Linked DNA regions of Homo sapiens. The protein of the gene in region 2 interacts with the protein of the main gene of each other region in a pairwise test. Each region holds a gene or a part of one and is shown on either strand. Other genes may lie near its edges.

The links.
Region 1: the proteins of UNC50 (region 2) and SGPL1 interact in binary tests that used the Homo sapiens proteins (3 or more experiments, as listed by UniProt).
Region 3: the proteins of UNC50 (region 2) and HSD17B13 interact in binary tests that used the Homo sapiens proteins (3 or more experiments, as listed by UniProt).
Region 4: the proteins of UNC50 (region 2) and CLRN1 interact in binary tests that used the Homo sapiens proteins (3 or more experiments, as listed by UniProt).
Region 5: the proteins of UNC50 (region 2) and MTIF3 interact in binary tests that used the Homo sapiens proteins (3 or more experiments, as listed by UniProt).
Region 6: the proteins of UNC50 (region 2) and SLC10A6 interact in binary tests that used the Homo sapiens proteins (3 or more experiments, as listed by UniProt).
Region 7: the proteins of UNC50 (region 2) and SLC71A2 interact in binary tests that used the Homo sapiens proteins (3 or more experiments, as listed by UniProt).

What each region holds. Positions count from the first base shown.
Region 1 is NC_000010.11:70,867,948-70,871,447, forward strand, and holds part of SGPL1 (sphingosine-1-phosphate lyase 1), read left to right. Parts: intron 1-397; coding exon 398-486; intron 487-1,844; coding exon 1,845-1,950; intron 1,951-3,100; coding exon 3,101-3,199; intron 3,200-3,500. UniProt on the Homo sapiens protein: Cleaves phosphorylated sphingoid bases (PSBs), such as sphingosine-1-phosphate, into fatty aldehydes and phosphoethanolamine. Elevates stress-induced ceramide production and apoptosis.
Region 2 is NC_000002.12:98,615,089-98,618,588, forward strand, and holds the end of UNC50 (protein unc-50 homolog), read left to right. Parts: intron 1-1,118; coding exon 1,119-1,258; intron 1,259-1,343; coding exon 1,344-1,445; intron 1,446-3,057; coding exon of another isoform or gene 3,058-3,079; coding exon 3,080-3,216; 3' UTR 3,217-3,427; downstream 3,428-3,500. UniProt on the Homo sapiens protein: Involved in the cell surface expression of neuronal nicotinic receptors. Binds RNA.
Region 3 is NC_000004.12:87,309,383-87,312,882, reverse strand, and holds part of HSD17B13 (17-beta-hydroxysteroid dehydrogenase 13 isoform A precursor), read left to right. Parts: intron 1-2,523; coding exon 2,524-2,640; intron 2,641-3,500. UniProt on the Homo sapiens protein: Plays a pivotal role in hepatic lipid metabolism. In vitro, it catalyzes the oxidation of a variety of lipid substrates, including 17beta-estradiol, retinol, retinal, and leukotriene B4.
Region 4 is NC_000003.12:150,962,728-150,966,227, forward strand, and holds part of CLRN1 (clarin-1), read right to left. Parts: intron 1-3,500. UniProt on the Homo sapiens protein: May have a role in the excitatory ribbon synapse junctions between hair cells and cochlear ganglion cells and presumably also in analogous synapses within the retina.
Region 5 is NC_000013.11:27,444,065-27,447,564, reverse strand, and holds part of MTIF3 (translation initiation factor IF-3, mitochondrial), read left to right. Parts: intron 1-2,408; 5' UTR 2,409-2,477; intron 2,478-3,500. UniProt on the Homo sapiens protein: IF-3 binds to the 28S ribosomal subunit and shifts the equilibrium between 55S ribosomes and their 39S and 28S subunits in favor of the free subunits, thus enhancing the availability of 28S subunits on which protein synthesis initiation begins.
Region 6 is NC_000004.12:86,839,385-86,842,884, forward strand, and holds part of SLC10A6 (sodium-dependent organic anion transporter), read right to left. Parts: intron 1-3,500. UniProt on the Homo sapiens protein: Transports sulfoconjugated steroid hormones from the extracellular compartment into the cytosol in a sodium-dependent manner without hydrolysis.
Region 7 is NC_000009.12:94,381,069-94,384,568, forward strand, and holds part of SLC71A2 (hippocampus abundant transcript-like protein 1), read left to right. Parts: intron 1-3,500.

The DNA.
Region 1 (3,500 bases), on a different chromosome or scaffold from region 2:
GTAATCACAATTTCACATTCTTTAACAGGTATTGAAAATTTAAATTAAAATTCTGATATTTTTGAATGGCATAAAATGCCCTATCTTATCTGAAAATTGAAAAATTAATACAGAAATGTAAATGGATTGTGAATAGGTGGGATCTGGCCAAGTGTGCATTTGTCTAGGCAGTGCTGAGTTTCTGCTCATTATTTAGTAGCTTTCATTCTTCACCTGAGCCAAAATTAGGCTTAGCCAATAAAGCCAAATTTTCCTTCTGGAAGACATGGCAGTGTCTGCCTTGCAGCATGCATCCAAGACCTTATCTGTTTCTGTATCAAACATTGTCAAGATCAGGGCATGAAGAGCCGGGGCATTCCTGACTCCCCCAACAGATGGCATCTCTTCTTTATTATAGGTGACTTCTGGGGGAACAGAAAGCATACTGATGGCCTGCAAAGCATATCGGGATCTGGCCTTTGAGAAGGGGATCAAAACTCCAGAAATGTATGTATGTGTGGCTGTTTTGTCCCCTTTTGGATTTGTCTGTCTGGAGTACAGCTTTATGAAACTAAAGCAGATAATCCATTTTCCTGCTGCTTCTCTTCCTCTGGTAATTCTGGTCCCCTTTCCCCCTGTCCTAGCCCCTCTGCCCTTATCCTTTTACATTCAGTAAAATTCTAAATGGATCAGCCAGTTATTTTTAAAGATCATTCCCATCCCGCCCCACCCCCAGATCATGCATAGTATATACTACAAGCAAAAATAAGATCCTTTTTCCAAAAGTGAGAGTTTGAGGACTACATCTTTGAATCCTGTGATATTTGCAAATTATTTGGAGCCTAAAGAAACCTCTCTAGGTACTTTAGTTCTGCTTACCTTAGAAAGTTACTTAATATTATAGGCTGCCTCAGGGTACTCTCTGGGAAAACTTTAGTGTGAGGGCTGTTTTCTGGGAGGAAGAATAAAAATATCTTTTTGAGATTTACCCACATTGCCTTCCTTGGACATAAATTTGATGTTTAGTTACATTATTTTTTCCTAGACTGTCCCCTTGTACAGTATGTTTATCCTACATCTTAATATTTTTACTGCAAGTATTACTTGACAATGGGGATTTATTGCATATGGTCTCATGCTGTGGTTCATATGTAGCATAAGAGAATAAACCAGGCTGCCATTCTTTCTTCATATGTCGATCTTTGGTGCTTGGTACTTCCTCAGTAGTAGAGATTTTTCTCCTTAGAGGGAACAGATTCGTTGTATGAATGGAGTAGTTGAGGAAAGTCTAAAGCAAATACCCGTGACCTCATTTTCTCTTTCAACACTATTTGAAATACTATTTCCAAATGTGTAGGAGAAATGGGGATTTTAGTTTCTTCAGGTTTGTTGTCTTTCAGAGTTGGAAGGGGCCACTGAGCTGATGCTTGGCCGCTGTGTGAACATTTCTGCTTGAACATGTGTTGTGCCGGGAAGCCTTCTTCTCATTCTCACTGAGGTGCCTGTCTTTGGTAGGCAACCGTTAGCCAGCTCTGCCTTGTGTTGCTCTCATCCAAAGTCTCTGTCCCCCAGCTTTCCGCCTGCCAGCCTAGCTTTATGCTTTGGATCCCTCACTGTGGGATCACTTCTGAGTCCTCTTCCTATTGCCAGAATGATTTCCTAAATAGGAGGGAAGTTTCTGCAGAAAATCAGTTGGCCTCTTTTTGGGTGTGCTTAAAAAGAAAAGTAGAGCAGTCTAAACACTTAAATTTTTAATTTGGGGAAAAATAATCAGAACTTACTCCCGGTAATTTAGATTAGCTGCTAATGGTGTTTTCTATTATTTTGGCCTGAGTTACATTATTCTCCTCTTCCCTGTCATTTAGTGTGGCTCCCCAAAGTGCCCATGCTGCATTTAACAAAGCAGCCAGTTACTTTGGGATGAAGATTGTGCGGGTCCCATTGACGAAGATGATGGAGGTGGATGTGCGGGTGAGTCCCTCTGGAGGGCCCACTGTCTGTGCTGGGCCCTGACAGCAGAAGGGCCCTCCTGTTGACTAGCCGTTTCCAGTCAGATGGGTCTGACTGCCTTTGATTGTGGCAGCCAGAATATGAAAAACTGCATTGATAGTGGTGATTGACTGCAGCTTCAGTCTTTTCATAGGTTCATGAATTCTGAAAGGGAGGTGATCTAGTCACTAACTTGGGACTTGAGAGACACTGGTTTTGCGGTCAGCGCCATCACTTTTTCTTTCTTTTCTCTATTTGTAAAATGAACATGGACTCACTTCCCCTAAGACTCTTACCATGGCCCGGGCATGGTGGCTCACATCTGTAATCCCAGCACTTTGGGAAGCCGAGGAGGGAGGATTACTTGAACCCTTGAGCCCAGGAGTTTGCGACCAGTCTGAGCAACATAGTGAGACCCCATCTCTACACAAAATTTAAAAAAGTAGCTGGACATGGTGGCATGCACCTGTAGTCCTAGCTACTCGGGAGGCTGGGGTGGGAGGATCACTTGAGCCCCAGGAGGTTGATGCTGCAGTGAGCTGTGTTCACACCACTGTACTCCAGCTTGGGTGACAGAGCAAGACCCTGTCTCAAAAAAAAAAAAAAGACTCTCACTGTGGTTTAGATTGGCTTAAATTAATACCATTGTCATTATGATAGTGATTATTTTTATGCCTCACATTTGTGTAGAGGAGTTTTCTAGTTTCAGTGTTCTGTCAGAATCCCATTTGAGCTTTATGACATTCCAGAGAGGTTGATGAAGCTGTTATATTATTGTAGTTCACAGATAAGGAACAGACTGAAGTAGCATACTCAGGGTTTCACTGCTGGTACGTTGTGGGGCTGGGGCTCACATTTGGCTCTTTGGCCTCTTAGCTCAATATTATTTTCGCCCCCACAGCGATTCTGTTCTTATTTTGTGCTCTCAGACTATTCTCCAAATGGACTTACCTGGAGTCACCTGTGTCCTGTCACCGTGGTGGGATGCAGTCTTCTCCCAGTTGGAGTGGTGAAGGAGGGGGTACTGGTGGAACTGGAACTCTAAGCTAGCAGCCCAAATTGCTCTTGGCAGCAGAAGAGAAGAGTAATTGTGACATAGATTCTCATTTTCCTTTAAACTTTAAATCCCTAGGCAATGAGAAGAGCTATCTCCAGGAACACTGCCATGCTCGTCTGTTCTACCCCACAGTTTCCTCATGGTGTAATAGATCCTGTCCCTGAAGTGGCCAAGGTATATGAGAGAAATGGGCTGCTAAGGCAGGCAAATGGATATTTTAAAACAAAGCCTAATGGGGCAGTACTTGGCAAATAGAAGCGATTTTTTTTTTGTTTTTGACCACAGTAGTGATAAGTAGCTCTCATCAGCCCTAGGGGAAGCCCTGCAGCTCAGTTGCAAGCCTTTAAAAGTTGCTAGTCTCTGCTGTGGGGGAAGATAGTACAAGGCTGAGGCCTTTTAAACTGGAAATTCTGAAATAGGATTGCCTTCTAGATTGAGATCTGGAAATAATCTGCATGTAGGAATGTGCCCACCA
Region 2 (3,500 bases):
CATACACTTGAATAATTGTTCTTATGGCTGGATGCGTCACTCTTCCTAACTGCTTCTTACTATTTCATCCTCCTTTTAATAGGGGGTTGACCCAGGTCTTGGGCCTTGGGCCTGTTCATTATCCACATTCATTTTTTTGGTGACATCATTCAGGCCCGTGGCTTTAAATATTAATATCATCTACACACTGATGAGTTTATATTTCCAGTTTGGACTTGTCTTCTAAACTCTAGACATTGTATACAACTTCTTACTCCATACTAGTTGGCATCTTCAACATAACAGGTCCAAATTCAAACTTCCGCACACTCCTTCCCACCTCAAAACCACTCTTCCCACAGCCAGCCCCACCTCAATTAAAGGCAGCTCCATCTTCCATTTGTTCAAGGCAGAAATCTCTCAGTCATCCTTGAGTATTTTTTTCTCATACTCCAATCCAATAATGTCAGGAGCTCTACCTTCAGAGTATCGTGTGTGCCACATCTTAGCACCTCCACTGCCACCAGCCCCTCTGCTCATCTCTTCCTTGCAGTAGCCTTCTAACTGGTCTCTGCTGCCAGTCTTGTCTCTGGAGTCTGTTCTCAGATCCGCCACCAGGGAGGCTCTGTCAAGGCATTTAAGTCAAATACTTTTCTCAGAACTCCACAGTGGCTTCTCACGTCACCAGGAATAAAAGCCAAAGATTGTAAAACGGCCACAGGCTTCGTAAGACATGGAGCCTGTGTGACTTGATGTTGGGCCCAACCCTGTTTCTTTTCTGGCTTCATTTCTTGCTCCTTTTCTTTCAGACACTGGTCTTTTCACCATTCCTCAGGCCTGCCAGGCACCATCACTATCCTTGGGTCTTTACCCAAATGTTACTTTATGACCCTCATATGTACAATTGCATCTCAAGTTTGTATTCTCCACATTTCTCTGCTGCTTTCTCTCTTTCCATAATACCATCTGACATAGGTGTATCATTGTCAGCCTTCCTTCCTAGATGGAAGGCAGGGATTTTTGTCTGTTTTGTTTACTGGTATATCTCCAGAATTTAGAATGTCTGCCGCATAGAAAGTCGTCAGTAAACATTTACAGAATTCATTTTATTATGAAAGAAATTTTAATTTTGCTCTTAGGTTCATCTCTAACAAGTATTTAGTGAAACGACAGAGCAGAGACTATGATGTGGAATGGGGCTATGCTTTTGATGTGCATCTCAATGCTTTTTATCCACTCCTGGTCATTTTGCATTTTATCCAGCTTTTTTTCATCAACCGTAAGTAGCAGTTAATTAGAGTATTATCCAAGTCTTCATTGCATGCATTGGTAAAGGGACTCATGGTCTGCGTCTCTTCTGGCAGATGTTATCCTGACAGACACATTTATTGGATATTTAGTTGGAAATACCTTATGGTTGGTTGCAGTTGGCTATTATATCTATGTAACTTTCCTGGGATACAGTGGTAAGTAATTTTTTTAAATGTTTTTGGTTGAGAACATAGCAAGAGGGGGAAAGTTGTAACAGTAGTACAAACAGCTGCTTTTATGGAACACTTACAGGCACTATCCTAAGTATTTTATGTGCATTATCTCATTTAATCTTCATGACAATTACACAGGTTTGTTTCTGTTTTCAAATGAGGAAACTGAGGCAGAGAGATTAAGCAACTTACCCATGGTCATGCAGCTAGAAAATGGCCTAGCTGGTATATAACAGATTTTATACTTTCAAGGAAACATGTTAAACCATACTGGTTATCTCCAGATGACTTGCAGGAATCCAAGACCATTCACTCCTCTTCTCCCATGCTTTCAGGTTGTGGGTTACCAGCAGGAGGGTAGAGCGAAGAAAGGTGGGGCCCAGCATCTTGTTACATAGGTCTATGAACTGAAGTTCTCTAAAGCCTTTTGAATCATAACTTTTTGCCCCATTCTTAGTTTTCATGATTACCGTATGGTTCTGTAGACAATCACAGAAGATCGGGCCCAACATTTATTGTCCTCAGGACATGTTTGCAGATTTACTGTTAAATCCTGTTGTCAGTTCATTTTTCTTAATATGAATGAGGAACATATATTATTTTTCATTTATGTTAAGAAATGATCCCATTAAATAAAGCCAAATAAAATCTAGAGACTGCGCTGTACGTTTCTTACCCCTTCCTTTCCTGTTACTGTAGATGATTAGGGCCTAACTGTAAATACAGATGGCTCTGACTATGCCTGGCTCCGGAGTTATTCCCACCCCGGTTCTCTCCCCCCTTGGCTGGTTTGTCAGGGAACACTTAACCCCTTCATTGTAATGCCTTGTTTGGGGAGTGCTTTCTCTAGTCCAGGGGAGATGTTTGTGTCATTTCTAATGAATTTTGAAAGTGTTTTGTGATGAGAACACTGCAGCACTGTGGTTTCTCTAAGTGGTTATTTGAACACTCCTGGTAACGACCTATACCACTTAGAATAGTTGGAGTACAGCTCAGTTTGTTTAAGAACTTCCTATATGAGAAATACTTAGGTCGGGATGCATGGGGTAGGGTCCCGCTAACTAAGCAGTGAGCAAGAAACATCAATATTTGGAGCCAGACTTTTATATTTAAGAGTTTCAGTTCTTTTCTGAAGCCTGGGCTACTAGTTGAGCTCACACCCTCTTAAAGTGGGGGTATAATGCTTTACACTGGAAAATCTCAAATAGCTAAAAGATGTTTTCCTATAACGCCATCCATCTCTGTACTTTAAGTTGGACTCCTAGAGGTTTCTGAGGCAGTCACAAGTTTAAATTCACCACTGTTTTCATGAATATTTGTGACATTTCTCCCTCATTGTTAACCTCTCTTGGTCCAGTGTATGATGTCCCACTCAGCCTCTGTGCTGAAATAATTCCTCTCCTAGGTTTCTTCCCAGCCCTAGACAAGGAGGAAACAGCACAGAGGGGTTGGGAAGAGTAGTCTAGTTCTGGGCATAAATAGCATCATCTTACTGATTCAAAATATGCATTCCCTTCCACCCCACATGTTGAAGTAAGCTGTCTTTCAAAATGTTCATTTATTAGTCATTTATTTTTTTTTTTTTTTAAATCAGTTTGGATTCCTTTCTTTTCCAGCATTGCCATTTTTGAAAAATACAGTAATTCTTCTGTATCCATTTGCACCTCTGATTCTGCTCTACGGGCTTTCCCTGGCACTGGGATGGAACTTCACCCATACTCTCTGTTCTTTCTATAAGTACAGAGTGAAATAAAAAGTGAGAAGAAGATTCAATCGTAACTGTGTCAACAGTATTGTGAAGTGATCATTTCTTGTAAAACTTGTAAATAAACTATCATCTTTGTAGATATCTTAAAGGTGTAAAGTTTGCAAATTTGAAGAAATATATATTAACACTGTGGTCAGGTACATTCCTTAAAACTAATTAAATGTACATTTCTATAATAAATATTTTTTAAACTAAAGCATGTGTGTTCACTCTAATATTTGCAAATGTAAGAGCTACATGTAAAATGCTAATGGCATGGGGAAAACATA
Region 3 (3,500 bases), on a different chromosome or scaffold from region 2:
TCACCATGTTGGCCAGGCTGGTCTCAAACTCCTGACCTCAGGTGTCCTACCTGCCTTGGCCTCCTAAAATGCTGGGATTACAGGAGTGAGCCACCATGCCCGGCCAAAAAAATAAGTTTTTAAAGAATTAAAGGTCATCCTGGCTAACACAGTGAAACCCCGTCTCTACTAAAAAACACAAAAAAATTAGCCGGGCGTGGTGGCGGGCGCCTGTAGTCCCAGCTGCGCGGGAGGCTGAGGCAGGAGAATGGCGTGAACCCGGGAGGCGGAGCTTGCAGTGAGCCGAGATCGCGCCACTGCACTCCAGCCTGGGCGACAGAGCGAGACTCCGTCTCAAAAAAAAAAAAAAAAAAAAAAAAAAAAAGAATTAAAGGTGTTAATTTTATTTAGAAGCCTTACTGAAGACTACAGTCGGAGGCCTATAGCCTGAGAGCAGCCCTTTAGAGAGGTTCAGTTGAACTGTTCTGATAGTGGGGGCCATGTGCTCTATCCTGTATTGTCTTCAAAGCATCTTTCCAGAGAGCTGCACATTGTCACAGAGTCAGGGACTTTGTGAAATTATGCTGACAACCAGAAGTGAGTAAACGTGGCTTCTTACATTTGCTACGTTGTCTCACAGTACTTAATAAGTATGCAATATGTAAGTAAATACTATAGTACTATTGCAACTCCTGATTGTTTTCTTAGACAAGGAATTGGGCCCAATAAAAACCCTCTTGGTAGGCATTCAGGCTTCGTGTACCATGAGCTTTCCTAAGGGTATCCTGCCACTCTTGGGGAAGGCATGATAGATGAGGGGAGTAAGGATAATGGAACTCTGGGTACAGGGTTCCTGGGGGCTAACTTAGAGGTAGACACAGGCAATGCTAAATATTTGGGATTGATTTTATAGAGGTTGCTAGATTGTGAATTTCCTTAGTAAGGGCTAAGGCATTGATATGTAATGTCACACTTGGCTCCGAGGCTGGGTTGTTGGATCCATGTAGATGAAATCAGGGAGAGAAAGGGCAGAACGGAGTAATTTAGAAATGTATTGATTTGTATTACTCTCTGTTGGCTTGCTATTCAAGGCAGTGGAGAACTCAATCACATAATAATCTGCAGCAAACCACAGATCATCCCAGGGAATGAAGTTTTAACATTCGCTGGCTCCCTAACTCCTCACCCAGCCTTTACATTCACTGGCTGTTCAGTCCATGCCTGGACATCTTAATTTGAATACAACATTTTAAATCCATTTTTCTGTCATCATCTTGCACTAACAGACAATTCTACACTAAGCCTATGTTTATGAATATTTCTCAAGAGTACATGTACACAGCCTTCAGTATAAGGAAAACTGGAAGTATGACATACCTCCAGTTGTCATACTCCTTGGGCCCCTCTTAAATTCTCATTAAACTGCAGGATAGGCAAGTCAGAGGTGAATCTCAAATACGAAATTCTTACCGGAAAGGGGTTCCAATCCAGACCCCAAGAGAGGGTTCTTAGATTTCTCGCAAGAAATAATTCGGGGCAAGGCCACAGTGCAAAGCAAAAGCAAGTTTATTAGGAAAGTAAAGGAGTAGAGAACAGCTACTCCATGGAGAAGAATGGCTTGAGCTGCTCCACCAAGGGTATTTAGAGTTACTTCTTGATTATATGCTAAACAAGGGGTGGATTATTCATGAGTTTTCCGGGAAAAGGGTGAGCAATTCCCAGAACTGAGATTTCCTCCCCTTTTTAGGCCATATAGGGTAACTTCCTGCCATTGCCATGGTATTTGTAAACTGTCATAGTGCTGGTGGAAGTGTCTCTTAGCTTGCTAATGTATTATAGTTAGCTTATAATGAGCAGTGAGGACAACCAGAGGTCACTTTCATCACCATCTTGGTTTTGGTGGGTTTTGGCCGGCTTCTTTACTGCACCCTATTTTATCAACAAGGTCTTTATGACCTGAATCTTGTGCCAACCTCCTATCTCATCCTGTGACAAAGAATGCCTTAACTTCCTGGGAATGCAGCCCAGTAGGTGTCAGCCTTATTTTACCCAGACCCTATTCAAGATGGAGTTGCTCTGATTTAAACGCCTCTGACAAAATGACGACCTCAAAACAATCCAGCTTTATGGAATACCTCCACAAGAAAGAAAGTATACTTAGCTATAGAATTTTCTCCTTGCATCCAACAGGCTTTGAGATGTCAGATGTTTCCTTCCTGTCCCATGATTAATCCTAGCCATTCCTCTTTCTTGTCTGGCTCCACTACTCCTTACCATCTAATGCCTCGCCACCATTTTGATATTTTGACTAAGTGAGCTATGAAACACACCTACTGGATATGAAAGTATAAGTTTCTGATAACAAAACATCAACATGGGATGTGGAGGAAGTGGGTAGGGTGGCATTAATGCAGCAAATCCTGGAATATTTTAAATCTTCATTCTAAATTTAGTAAAAATATAGGATAATTTTCCTGCCATCATTTACTTATAAAATTAAAATTTTAGAAAATAAAAATAATATTTTCCTCTTTTTAATCACAGATTATGGCCTGTATTGGAGACAGATGAAGTCGTAAGAAGTCTGATAGATGGAATACTTACCAATAAGAAAATGATTTTTGTTCCATCGTATATCAATATCTTTCTGAGACTACAGAAGTAAGTACAGCACAGAACACCCAAATACTAAAACACCAATAGAGCTTTTTTTTTTGCTTTTTTTTTTTTTAGACAGAGTCTCACTCTGTCACCCTGGCTGGATTGCGGTGGTTGCAGTGGCATGATCTTGGCTCACTGCAACCTCCGCCTCCTGGGTTCAAGCAATTCTCATGCCTCAGACCCCCAAGTAACTGGGATTATAGGTGTGTGCTGCCACACTACACCCAGCTAATTTTTGTATTTTTTGATAGAGACAGGTTTCCCCATGTTGGCCAGGCTGGACTCGAACTCCTGACCTCAAGTTATCCTCCTGTCTCGGCCTCCCAAAGTGCTGGGATTACAGTCATGAGCCACCATGCCTGGCCCAATAGAGCTATTATTATGGAGCATCTTTCAGTTGTGAAAATTGGCATGGAAACTCTCCATCCCTGGGGAGAACAGTTATTTCCTCTGTTATTTTCCTACCCAGTCTATAAAAAGAGAGTGATTCATTTTCTCTACCAAATCTACTGTCTCTGCCCAAACTTTGCTGAAGACTATTCTAACTAAAGGAAACACAGTTTAAAAAGAATGCAATATAGTGAAGTAGTTAATAATAAAGACTCCATTTTTAAAAGTCTGCTGGAAGTTTGGTTGGGATTGCACTGAATCTATAGAGCAATTGGGGAGTATTGACATATCAACAATATTGAGTTTTCTAATCCAAGAACATAATATCTATTTTTAAAATCTTCTTCAAAATCTTTAAATCTTTAAATTGTATTTTGTAGTTTTTGGTGTTTAAGTCTTGCACATATTTTGTCAGATTTATTCCAAAGTATTTCACGGGTTCTTTTTTTTTTTTTTTTTTTTTTTTTTGA
Region 4 (3,500 bases), on a different chromosome or scaffold from region 2:
CACATGTGATCAGATATCTCTGCCTTACACCTAAACTGCCAACATTAAGGTAATATAATTACATAACCCAAAGATTGATCATAAGCATGTGACTTCCTCAACCAATATTATTAAACAGGCTTGACTTGGCTATTTTACCTTGCAAGGATCAAAGATTAAGATTTAGACATCAGGATCACTAAAATGTGAAATAAAAAGGCAATGAATGAATTCAAGTCATAAGGCCAAATATTCTCAGATGGTTACATGAGAACCAGCTTTTGTGAGGCTTCAATACTATTCTTAAAATAGGTGGTGAACACTCCTATTCAACACAGTATTGGAAGTTCTGGCCAGGGCAAACAGGCAAGAGAAAGAAATAAAGCGTATTCAAATAGGAAGAGAGGAAGTCAAATTGTCTCTGTTTGCAGATGAGATGATTGTATATTTAGAAAACCCTGTCGTCTCAGCCCAAAATCTCCTTAAGCTGATAAGCAACTTCGGCAAAGTCTCAGGATACAAAATCAATGTGCAAAAATCACAAGCATTCCTATACACCAATAACAGACAAACAGAGAGCAAACTTATGAGTGAACTTCCATTCACAATTGCTACAAAGAGAACAAAATACCTAGGAATACAACTTACAAGGGATGTGATGGACCTCTTCAAGGAGAACTACAAACTACTGCTCAAGGAAATAAGAAAGGACACAAACAAATGGAAAAACATTCCATGCTCACGGATAGGAAGAATTAATATCATGAAAATGGCCATACTGCCCAAAGTAACTTATAGATTCAATGCTTTTCCCATCAAGCTACCATTGACTTTCTTCACAGAATTAGAAAAAACTACTTTAAATTTCATATGGAACCAAAAAAGAGCCTGAATAGTCAAGACAATCCTAAGCAAAAAGAACAAAACTGGAGGTATTACGCTACCTGACTTCAAATTATACTACAAGTCTACAGTAACCAAAACAGCATGGTACTTGTATCAAAACAGATACAGAGACCAATGAAACAGAACAGAGGCCTCAGAAATAATGCCACACATCTACAACCATCTGCTCTTTGACAAACCTGACAAAAACAAGCAACGGGGAAAGGATTCCCTATTTAATAAATGGTGTTGGGAAAACTGGCTAGCCATATGCAGAAAACTAAACTGGACCCCTTCCTTATACCTTATACAAAAATTAACTCAAGATGGATTAAAGATTTAAACATAAGACCTAAAACCATAAAAATCCTAGAAGAAAACCTAGGCATTACCATTCAGGACATAGGCGTGGGCAAAGACTTCATGACTAAACACCAAAAGCAATGGCAACAAAAGCCAAAATTGACAAATGGGATCTAATTAAACTAAAAAAACTTCTGCGCAGCAAAAGAAACTATTATCAGAGTGAACGGGCAACCTGCAGAATGGAAGAAAATTTTTGCAATCTACCCATCTGACAAAGGACTAATATCCAGAATCTACAAGGAAGTTAAACAAATTTACAAGAAAAAACCCCGTTAAAAAGTGGGCAAAGGATATGAACGGACACTTCTCAAAAGAAGACATTTATACGGCCAACAAACATGAAAAAAAGCTCATCATCACTTGTCATTAAAGAAATGCTAATCAAAACCACACTGAGATACCATCTCACTCCAATTAGAATGGCAATCATTAAAAAGTCAGGAAGCAACAGATGTTGGAGAGGATGTGGAGAAATAGGAACGCTTTTACACTGTTGGTGGGAGTGTAAACTAGTTCAGCTATTGTGGAAGACAGTGTGGCAATTCCTGAAGGACCTAGAACCAGAAATGCCATTTGACCCAGCAATCCCATTACTGGGTCTATACCCAAAGGATTATAAATCATTCTACTATAAAGACATATGCCCACATATGTTTATTGCAGCACTGTTCACAATAGCAAGGACTTGGAACTAAGCCAAATGCCCATCAATGATAGACTAGATTAAGAAAATGTGGCACATGTATACCATAGAATGGTATGCAGCCATAAAATGAGTTCATGCCTTTTGCAGGAACATGAATGAAGCTGGAAACCATCATTCTCAGCAAACTGACGCAGGAACAGAAAACCAAACACCGCATGTTCTCACTCATAAGTGGGAGTTGAACAATGAGAACACATGGACACAGGGAGGGGAATATCACACACCGGGGCTTGTCGGTGGGTGGGGGACTAGGGGAGGGATAGCATTAGGAAAAATACCTAATGTAGATGACAGGTTGATGGGTGCAACAAACCATCATGGCACGTGTATACCTATGTAACAAACCTGCATGTTCTGCACATGTATTTCAGAATTTAAAGTATAATAAAAAAAACTTTAAAAAAGATAGTGAAATTGAAGGATAATCTTACATATTTTCTTCATCTCTTTGTATCCCTTTTTCATATTCTAAGGGGGCAAAATGTAGCAGAGGAAGAGCATGATTTACCATATGCATATGAATTTGAATCCCAAGTCTGCTACCTATTAGCTATGTGACTTTGGAAAATTGTGGTGACCTCTCTGTTTCCAGTTTCCATATTTCTTCAAGAGAAACAGCATCATAATATGTCCCATGTAAGGGTTGTAGATAATACATACAAAATGCCTGGCACCTATGAGGCACCCAATAAGTGGGCAGCTGAAATAATATTCATTATTGAATATTGCTTTTATCAATATCATTCTATCATTATATCAATATCATAATATTAATTATAGTAATTCAATATTAATGAGTATATACTGATATACTTTTATGATTCTCAAAGTCTAATCTTTTGCCAGTGGCAGAGACCCACCCAATATTTTTTTCTTCTGAGAAGTCTGAAAGTCCTTGGGGAAGATGAGTCACCTTCAGAAATTAGAAAAGAAAGCAGAGCAGCAAATTGTGAGAACAGTTGAGGAGTCATCCTTCAATAGGTAAAGTTCATATACACCAGGGTTAAGTTCCAGGAGTGCCACTTAGAACCTGCCCCTGTCAGACTCCTCTTCCTCTCCCAGGTATGCTCGGGTCAATGATTTTACTACTATTAGGGTGTGGGATGATTTAAAGGGAAGGAAGGTATATGGGTGTGCGTGTGCACATGTGCTTACAAGTAAAATTATAATTCTTGAACAATGTTGATTCTGTACTTTTTTATGTGAATATGGGAAGATAGTTACTAGGGGAAGGGAGAAATAAAACTTCTTTTTCTGGATTAGGTAGGCAGAACCAGAAGTTCCTTTGCTTAAAGTCATTTTCTCCATATTCCTCACCAATTGGAGGATAAGTTCTGCCAAGTTCCTCTTCTGGGTAAAGAATGCCCTTGGAGAGGTCAGGCGTAGTGGCTTATGCCCATAATTCCAGCACTTTGGGAGGCCAATGCAGGAGGATTGCTTGAGCCCAGCAGTTTGAGACCTGCCTGGGCAACCCCATCTCTACAAAAAAATTTTTTAAAAGTTAGCCAGGTGTAGTGGCACATGCCTGTGGTCCCTTCTACTCAGGAGGCTGAGGTGGGAGGAT
Region 5 (3,500 bases), on a different chromosome or scaffold from region 2:
AAAATGGATATCATACTATAAAGTTATGCATTATAAGTAATTGACATTAAGATAATTGGTTTTTAGAATATTGTGGCTGTCTCGGAGAGTATAGTTGTGGGAGTGAGTGCAGCAAATGCAACAGGATTATCATAAGAACGTAAGCGTTTGTTTCTATTTTGAGTTAGTCTCCTGGCCTCTTCAGCCTAGTGTTGTTTACCTCACAGAGGCATCAGAGATTTTCATCAGAGAACATGGCTTCCTATTTTTATTCAACTTTGAAAGGTTAGGGGTAGTCTCAGGCATCCTAGCTCAAACTACCCTTGACCCCACTTATAGTGTTTTCTTACTCTTTTTCTTAAAGTTCATCTTTTTTTTTTTTTTTTTGGCCTAACCCACTGGTTCTGAACAGGATAGGGAAGAGGAAACATCTGTGTTTTGAAAAGCATCCCCAGGTGATGCCGACAGGCCGTGGTTTCTGAGAAACACCACCCCATTGTAGACCAGTTAACTTTTAACCGTTCACTAGCAAAAAATTGTACAAGTTCTGCCTCAAACTGAAACCATCACCATTTGTTTTATTCTTCTAAAATTTTTATTTCAGTAGCTTTTGGACTGCAAGTGGTTTTTCATTACATGGACGAATTATATAGTGGTGAATTCTGAGATTTTAGTGCACCATCACCCGAATCGTATACATTGTACCTAATGTGTACTTTTTTTATGCCAGCCTCCTTCCCATCCGCCCCCATCACCATTTATGATGAGACTTTTAGACCTGAGTTTAAGGAAAACTAAATGAAGAAATAAAGGCACTATGCATTACAAAAAAATCAGAATTTTAAGTTTATAAAGTTCCTTATTTATGGGTCACTTAGATATAGGCTTGAAACGAATAAAGGGAATATTTTTTAAAATTATGTACAAAGCCAGAATGTCAATGTATTAAATTACAGTGAAATTTAGAACTTACACAGACTAGAATAGTTACATTGGCATTACCAGTGAACCATTCCTCCCTCTAGGCTATTGATTTGTTCTTTAAAAATGTATTAATTATTGAACACCCGTATAACCATAACCTAGATTTAGCAAATGCTGCCGTAAGTGCATTGTTTATATTTTCTGCTGTATGGTTTCAAAGCAAGTGATAGATGTCATGACACTATCCTAAATACTTCAGCATTTGTTTCTTAAGAATTCCATTTTCACACCTAAGAAAATTAACAGGCGGGTGCCGTGGCTCACGCCCGTAATCCCAACACTTCAGGAGGCCAAGGCAGGTGGATCATTTGAGGTCAGGAGATCGAGACCAGCCTGGCCAACATGGTAAAACCCCATCTCTACTAAAAATACAAAAATTAGCCAGGCGGTAGTGGTGCACACCTGTAATCCCGGCTACTTGGGAGGCTGAAGCAGGAGAATCACTTGAACCTGGGAGGCGGAGGTTGCAGTGAGCCGAGATTGCCCCACTGCACTCCAGTCTGGGTGACAGAGTGAGAACCTGTCTCAAAAAAAAAAGAAAAAAGAAAATTAACAATACGTCTCTAATAGTATCTAATACCTAGTCCCTATTCAGATTTTCCCCTCATTCCCAACATTTCTTTTCAGCAAAATTATGTCTCCTTGATTTTTTTTTTCACTCAAGAATAGCTTCCCTCTTCCCTTTTCATTCCCAATGGCATTGGCTTTTTTAGACACTAACCAGGTGTCTTGTTCCATCTGGATTTGTCAGATTGTTTCCTTGTGGCATCTTCTATTGTTTCTCTGAGTCTGGCCCTTGTATCCCCTGGAAACTGGAAGCTAGACCCTGCATCAGGTTCAGGTCAAACCTTTTTGGCAAAGCTGCTTAATAGAAGGTGCCATGCACTTTGGGTAGCTTCCCATCCAGAGATGTGGCAAGGATGGCAGGTTGTTCCACTGTTGGAGATGCTGAGTCTGACGTTGGCTTAGGATGACAGACAGCTGTCTACCCTCAGCAGAGTGTGCTTTTCCCTCTCAGTCTGAAAGTAATCTGTTTGTGACCCTTTGGCATCAGCTCTCTTGCATCCTGCCTGAATCAGTAGTTTCGTTGGGGTTGGAAAAATGGTGATTTTCTTTTTTTTTTTTTGAAACAGGGTCTTGCTCTGTTGTCCAGACTGGAGTGCAGTGGTGTGATCAGAGCTCACTGCAGCCTCAACCTCCTGGGCTCAAGTGAACCTCCTTCCTCAGCCTCCCCAGTAGCTGGGAGTACAGTTGCGTGTCAACACACCTGGCTAATTTATTTTTTGTAGAGACTGGGTCTTGCTGTGTGTCCCGGGCTGGTCTCAAACTCCTGGCCTTAAGTGATCCTCTCGCCTTGGCCTCCCAAAGTGCTGGGATTACAGGTGTGAGACATCGTGCGTGGCATGATTTTCTAATTACTTTTACTTTTCTTTTGTGTTTATTAGCTGTCATTCTTCTCTACAGAAGAGCTTCTCCTCATCAACTGGGGATGATTACAGTTCTTCCTAAAAAAGGTAGGATAAATGCTCAGTTCTTTTTATTTAATTAGCAATTTTCAAAGTAAAAAATCAATATAATAGTCCCATGCAGTTGTGGCAAATTATCATTTTCATAGATTTTTGTATATTCAGTATATTGAAATGAATGACAGTGATTATGCCTTACTGTTTAAATTACACCAAAATTGACCAGTGGGAGTCTCTTCATGCTGCCAAACTGTAAATGACATGTAAACAAACAAAATCATAATACCATCATGGAAATCTGAAAGCTAAATATTTGATGAAATAAAGGAACGTTTTTTAATTGGGATAATATTGTGAATACTAAAAAGATTAAGGAGTACCTCTTAGAGATACATACTATTTCCTGAAAAAGTAGGATTTACTTTGAAAGCATTCCTGGATGGTTGGGGGGAGATAGTTGAGGGGTAAAGATGAAACCCAGCTGCTGTTTATTATCCAGTTCTTTCTGTACAAGGTTAAAAAGTTCCCTAATAAAAAGTTTTTAAATTATGAATTTATGTTGATAGCTGCAATTTAAATGTAATATTACAGGTTGTTTTAACTTTGTATTTATATTTTTATCTATAAGGGCCTGTTTTGAAGAAACGTATATTTTCAATTTTGCTGATTTAAAGCCAGTATTGAGTTAGTATTAAAGCTTAATTGCAATGAATTGCATTGTTTGCTGTATACATCAATAAAAATTGAAGTTTCTTAAAAATTTAAACTAGTGGCAAAGAACTTTAAAAGTTATATACTTCCAGTGTTTTTCTTTTTTTTTTCGTTTTTTTTGAGACAGAGTCTCGCTCTGTCGCCCAGGCTGGAGTGCAGTGGCGCAATCTCGCTCACTGCTAGCTCCGCCTCCCGGGTTCACGCCATTCTCCTGCCTCAGCCTCCCGAGTAGCCGGGACTACAGGCGCCCGCCACCACGCCCAGCTAATTTTTATTTTATTTTTTAGTAGAGACAGGGTTTCACTGTGTTAGCCAGGATGGTCTCGATCTCCTGACCTTGTGATCCGCCCACCTCAGCCT
Region 6 (3,500 bases), on a different chromosome or scaffold from region 2:
AGGCTGCAGTGAGCTATGCTCACACCACAACACTCCAGCTTTGGGGACAGAAGGAGGCCCTGTCTCTAAAAATAAAAAAAGGAACCTTATAATATACCTTACTCTGCAACTTGTTTGCTTTTTTTCCCACTTCATCTATCACAGACATCCTCTCAGACCAATACATTTAAACTTATTCTTTTAAAGAACTGCGAAATATGCCATAATCTAAATATGCCATAATTTCTTCAATCACTTCATTAACCATAGGTCAGTTGCTTTTAGTTTTTTGCCATTATAAATAATGTTATAATAAACACTCTCATACATACTTCACTTGAAATGATTCTTTTCTTTCTGTGAATTCCCAAGGTGGAATTGCTATGTAAAAGTCTGTGTTTTTTGTTTTAATATATACTTTCAGACTACTTTCCAAAAAGATTGCTACATTTCACAATCTTGCCTACTCCGGATGTGATCAGTCCCTTCTAATTGTCATGCCAGCATTGAAAAATTGATCTCACTCTTGTTACACTCTTATTTTTTTTTTTTATTTTTTTTTTTTAGCTGGAGCTCACTCTGTCACCCAGTCTGGAGTGCAGTGGCCTGATCTTGACTCACTGCAAGCTCCGCCTCCCAGGTTCAAGCAATTCTCTCTGCCCCAGCCTCTGGAATAGGTGGGATTACAGGTACCCGCCACCACACCAGGCTAATTTTTTTTTTTTTTTTAATTTTTAGTAGAGATGGGTTTTACCATGTTGGCCAAGCTGGTCTCGAACTCCGGACCTCAGGTGATCCACCCACCTTGGCCTCCCAAAGTGTTGGGATTACAGGCGTGAGCCACTGCACCCAGCCGACACTCTGGATTCTATCAGGTTGTGCTTTCTTTCATGTCAAGTGGCTTCTTCTGTGTCCTCCTCTCTAAACAATCTTGCTTGTCAGACTTCTTCTCAACTTGTAGGAGTTCTTTTAAAATTAGGGCTCATATTACCATGAATAATACAAGTATTTTTTCCAAGCATGGTGTATATCTTTGACTTTGCTTATGACTTGCCATAATTAACATTTATATAGTCAGAGCTGTTTTTTTAATGGCTTCTGAGTTTCTTATCTTAAAGACCTACCCTGATCCGAGGGCATTCAAATATTGTCTTCTACTTTTTACTTTTATGCTTATATTTTCAACTGACTTAAAATTTATATTTTGCATGGTAACAGGTATGAGACTAATCCATTTTTTCTATTAATATATTGAGATGCAAGTGTGTCAATATAATCTACTAAAATAAACCATTTTCCACTATACTGAAGTGTCACCTTTATCATTTATTAAATGCCCAAGTGTACACAAAATATTTTCTGGAAATTCTCTTCTAGCTCATTGATAAATAACTTTCTTTTTTCCTGAACAAATACTAGACTAATTACAGTGTTCTCATATATGGTAGGGCAAATACCTCCACATAAATTTCCCTTTTCAAACTTGTCTTAGCAGTTCTTGCTTATATTTTATTCCATATGAAACCCAAAATTATTTTATCCTATTAAGAATGCTTACTTTAAGCAAAGATTTCTTCCTGACTAGTAGGCAATTTAAAAGAAAAAAAGCAGTTTGCCACAGCTCTCAAACCTCTGTATCCACAAAGAGGCTGTTTAGAAAGTTTTTTCCAAATTCTTAGTCTATGATAGTGCTACATTCCTTGACTCTCCATATTACTAAGTCCTGAATGGAATTCCATATTATATCACTTTACTCTTGAACTTCTGGAGAACCAGCACAACATTTCTCTACTGAATGGCTTTGGCTCAAACAGCAGAAAGGTAAGACTCATGATTATGGGAAGCAAAGTGAGATTTATATCCGACTGATTCTATATCCTTGATTACCTATGTGATTGCTTCCATGTTTATACAATTTTCAAGCCCATGGTGATCATGATATTGGTCAAGGATGGCAAGAGGTTATCCTGGTGCTCTGCCAACTGTTACAAATACCAGCAAAGGTGGAAAAGCACACAGTGAATGCCTGTGAGTACAGTGGAAAGTCACGCCTTGTATTTTTAGCCATGAAATTCCAATGTAGCATAAACAGAGGATGTGGCTAAGTAAGTCTCTTGACTTTTCATGTATAGGAAAATTTTTGGCAAAATCTAACTTCAGTATAACAAGATTCCACTTGCATTGAGAAGAATAGCATCATCATCTCCAAACTATTACAGAAAATAATGAGACATATTCAGCAAGTCTAGACAAACAGGTCAGTCTTGAACCCTCCCTTAAAGCAGGGAAATTACATATATACACATTACATTAAAATGCAGTGTCAATAACATTTTGCAATTGGAGATTAAGTTATTATAAATTGTTTTAATTTCAAAAATCCCATAAAATCAGGAACTCTGACCCTCAAAACTATGAAAGTATACACTTGCTTTCCGACTGAAAGAAATAAAAAATTATCCAGCTAACCAGATGGACACGGAGTGAGCTATAAGATCATACCAACAGATTTGACCCTAGAATAGAGCGTAAGGCCCGATTTTCCATCCCTCAATATAAATGTTACCCTTGTCTGCTGCCTTCCAATAATAATGAGTATTTATTGAGCACTATGTGCTAGGTGTTATGTCTCATGCTTTTATATACATTTTCTCTTTTCATCTACATAATAACTCTATGTGTGAGTATTATTTTCATTGTATAGATAAGGAAATTAAAGTACATAGAGACATGGAAGCTTGCATGAAGTCTCATGAATTCAGTCTCCGTTCTGTCTCCAAAGCCTTAAATGCAAAGGACCTTCAGTTTTCCACCAAGACATGTCAGATAGACCTGAACAATTTGAAGTTCTATTTCCAGGTTCTCTACTGAAGGACTAAGAACTTCTTTAAAGTTCAAAGGTCAAAGTTGGCCACTGAGCTCCACAGGCTCCAACACCACCAGTGGTCAGAATCCTTTGTCTGCAGCTGAGGACATAAATACATCCTTACGGAAGAATGGACCTCTTGTATATATCAAAAGTTCTCAAACAAAGATAGTGGGAGGCCAGGCGTAAGTGGCCCACACCTGTAATCCCAGCACTTTGGAAACCCTAGGTGGGAGGATTGCTTGAGCCCAGGAGTTCAAGACCAGCCTGGGCAACATAGTGAGACCTCATCTCTGTAATAAAAAATAAAAAATTAGCTGGGTATGATGGCGCATGCCTATAGTCCCAGCTGCGCTGCTCAGAAGGCTGAGGTGAGAGGATCACTTGACCCCAGAAGGCCAAGACTTCAGTGAGCCATGATTGTACCACTGCACTCCAGTCTGATGACAGAGTCTAAGACCCTGTCTCAAAAAAAAAAAAAAGAAAAGAAAAGAAAAGAAAAGAAAAGACAAGACAGTGGGAGCTGTCCTGAGTTGCATCAATAAATGGACACCTCTTTTCTTTCTTTCTTTCTTTCTTTCTTTCTTTCTTTCTTTCTTTCTTTCTTTCTTTCTTTCTTTCTTTCTTTCTTTCTTTCTTTCTTTCTTTTTTTTTT
Region 7 (3,500 bases), on a different chromosome or scaffold from region 2:
TCTTGTTGCCCAGGCTGGAGTGCAATGGCGTGATAACGGCTCACCACAATCTCCGCCTCCTGGGTTCAAGTGATTCTCCTGCCTCAGCCTCCCAAGTAGTTGGGATTACAGGCATGCGCCACCATGCCAGGCTAATTTTGTATTTTTAGTAGAGACGGGGTTTCTCCATGTTGGTCAGGCTGGTCTCAAACTCCCGACCTCAGACCATCCGCCCGCCTCGGCCTCCCAAAGTGCTGGGATTACAGGCGTGAGCTACTGCCCCCAGCTGGTTTGAATTTTCTAGCTTTTTTTTTTTTTTGTTATTTTATAAATACAGCATATTCTCCTCTTTGGCTTTTAAAAAGTTCAGCATAAATTATTTTGAGATTTATCAGTGTTATGTAAATCGGTAGTTCATTCTTTTTAATTACTGAGTAGTAGTCCATTTGTGGATGAACCACGATTTGTACATTCCCTTGTTGATGGACTTTCGGCTTCTCACCAGTTTTTGGCTATTACAAATAAAGCTGCTGTGAACATCTGTGTGCCAATCTTTGTACAGAATACACTTTTTTAAAAGTAAATAGGAGTGAAATGGCTGGGTCATATGGTAGATGTATTTAACTTTTTAAGAAACTGTTGGCTGGGCATGGTGGCTCATGCGTGTAATCCCAGCACTTTGGGAGGCCGAGGCAGGAGGATTGCCTGAGCCCAGGGATTTGAGACCAGCCTGGGCAACATGGTAAGACTCCGTCTTTAAAAAAATAATAAAATAAAATAAATTGCCAAACTAATTATTTTAAAAGTAATTGTACAGTTGTACATTGCAGCTAGCACTGTATGATAATTCTAGTTCATCCATATCCTTACCAACACCTGGCCAATTTTAGCCCTTCCAATTGGTCTTTAGTGATGTCTCATTGTTCTTTTAATTTGTGCTTCCCTATGGCTAGTGGCATTCAGTATCTTTCCATAAGTTTTTTTTTTTTTCCTCCTCCGGCAGAGTCTCACTTTGGTTGCCCAGGCTGGAGTGCGGTGGCGTGATCTTGGCTCATTGCAGCCTTGACCTCCTGGGCGCAGGTAATTCTCCCACCTCAGCCTCTCGAGTAACTGGGACTACAGGCATATGCCACCATACCCAGCTAATTTTTTAATTTTTTATAGAGATGGGGTCTTACTATGTTGCCCAGACTGGTCTTGAACTCCTGGATTCAAGTCGTCCACCTGCCTCAGCCTCGCAAAGTGCTGGGATTACAGGTGTGAGCCATGTGCCCAACTTCCCTAAACTTATATGTCTTCTGTATATCCCTTTTGGCAAAGTGTCTGTTCTTGTCTTTTGCCTATTTTTTGTTGTTGTTGTTGGTTGGTTGTTTTCTTGTAATTGAGTTTTGAGAATTCGTTACATATTTGGGATGCAAGTCCCTCGTCAAATGATTTGCAAATACATTCTCTCTAGGCCGTGGTCCATCTTTTCATTCTCTCAGCAGTGTCTTGAAGAACAGGAATTTTAAATTTTGATGAAATTTATCAATTTGCTCTTTTATAGATCAGGGTTTTGGTTTCATATTTAAGAAATTGTTGCCTAATCCCAAATCATAGGAATTTCCTTCTATTTTTTCTTTTTTTTTTAGACGGAGTCTCTTTCTTTGTCGCCCAGGCTGGAGTGTAGTGGCACAATCTCTGCCCACTGCAATCTCCAGCTCACTGCAATCTCTGCCTCCCGGGTTCCAGCGATTCTCCTGCCTCAGCCTCCCGAGTAGCTGGGACTACAGGCATCCGCCACCACGCCTGGCTAATTTTTTGTATTTTTAGTAGAGTTGCAGTTTTAGTAGAGGCGGGGTTTCACCGCGCTAGCCAGGATGGTCTCAATCTCCTGACCTCGTGATCCACCTGCCTCGGCCTCCCAAAGTCTGGGATTACAGGCGTGAGTCATTGTGCTTGGCCTTCCTTCTATGTTTATGGAAGCTTTATAGTTTTAGATTTTACAATTGGGTTTGTGTTTAATTTTGATTACATTTTTATATGGTGCAAAATAAGGATGGAAATTATTTGTTTATGAACAGTTGTTCATTTGCTGAAAAATATGTTTTTATTCATTGAATAGCTTTTACATCTTTTTTTTTTTTTTTTTTTGAGATGGCGTCTTGTCCCATCGCCCATGCTAGAGTGCAGTGGCGCAATCTCGGCTCACTGCAACCTCCACTTCCCAGGTTCAAGCGATTCTCCTGCCTCAGCCTCCTGAGTAGCTGGGATTACAGGCGCACGCCACCACACCTGGCTAATTTTTGTATTTTTAATAGAGACAGGGTTTTACCATGTTGGCCAGGCTGGTCTCGAACTCCTGACCTCGTTATCCACCCATCTTGGCCTCCCAGAGTGCTGGGATTATGGGTGTGAGCCACCATGCCTGGTCTACTTTTGCATCTTTGTCAAAAATCAATTGTCCATATATTAGTCAGTCTCTGAACTCTTTATTCTGTTCCTTTGATCTATTTGTCTTTACATCAGTACCCTGCAGTCTTGATTACTGGAGGTTCATAAGACTTGAAAACTAACAGTCCCCCAATCTTGTTATTTTTTAAAGTCGTTTTAGTGATTCTGGGTCTTTGCATTTTAGAATTAGCCTGGCAATTTCCACAAGAAAGCCTTTTGGGATTGTTATTGGTATTCTTTTGCCGTGAAGATCTGTTTGGAAAGAATTGATCAAGTCTTCTGATGCATGAATGTAGTATCTCTCCATTTATTTTAGATCTGTAATTTCTTTCAGCTGAGTTTTGTAGTTTTCAGTTGACATGTCTTTCCCATCTTTTGTCAGATTATTCCGTTTCATATTTCTTGACGTTATTGTAAATGGTATCATTACATAAATGTAATTTTTTAAAATTTAAATTCACAATTGTTTGTTGCCAGCATATAGAAATACGGTTGATTTTTAAAAAATTGTTTAATTGTGGTAAAATACACATAGCAAAGAAGTTACCATCTTAACCATTCTTAAGTGTAGACTTCAGTAGTGTAAGTATATTCACATTGTTCTGCAGCCAATTTCCAGAACTACTTCTTCTTTCAAAACAAATTCTATACCCATGAAACAACAACTCCATTTTTTGCCATCCTCCCATTCCCTGACAACCACCATTCTCCTTTGTTTCTATGTGTTTGACTTACTTTAGATACCTCATATATATGGAATCATACCATATTCATCCTTATCTTTTTGTGATTGACTTATTTCATCTTGCATAATGTCCTCAAGGTTTGTCCATGTGTGCCGTGTGTCAAATTTTCCTTTTTTTTTTTTTTTTTGGACACATGGTCTCTCTCTCTGTTGCTCAGGCTGGAGTGCAGTGGCATGATCACGGCTCAGTGGAGCCTCGACCTCCCCAGGCTCAGGCGATCCTCCCACCTCAGCCTCCCAAGTAGCTGAGAGTACAGGCGCGCACGAGCAGGCCCAGCTAATTTTTGTATTTTTTGTAGAGTTGCAGTTTTGTCATGTTACCCAGGGTGGTCTCAAACTCCTG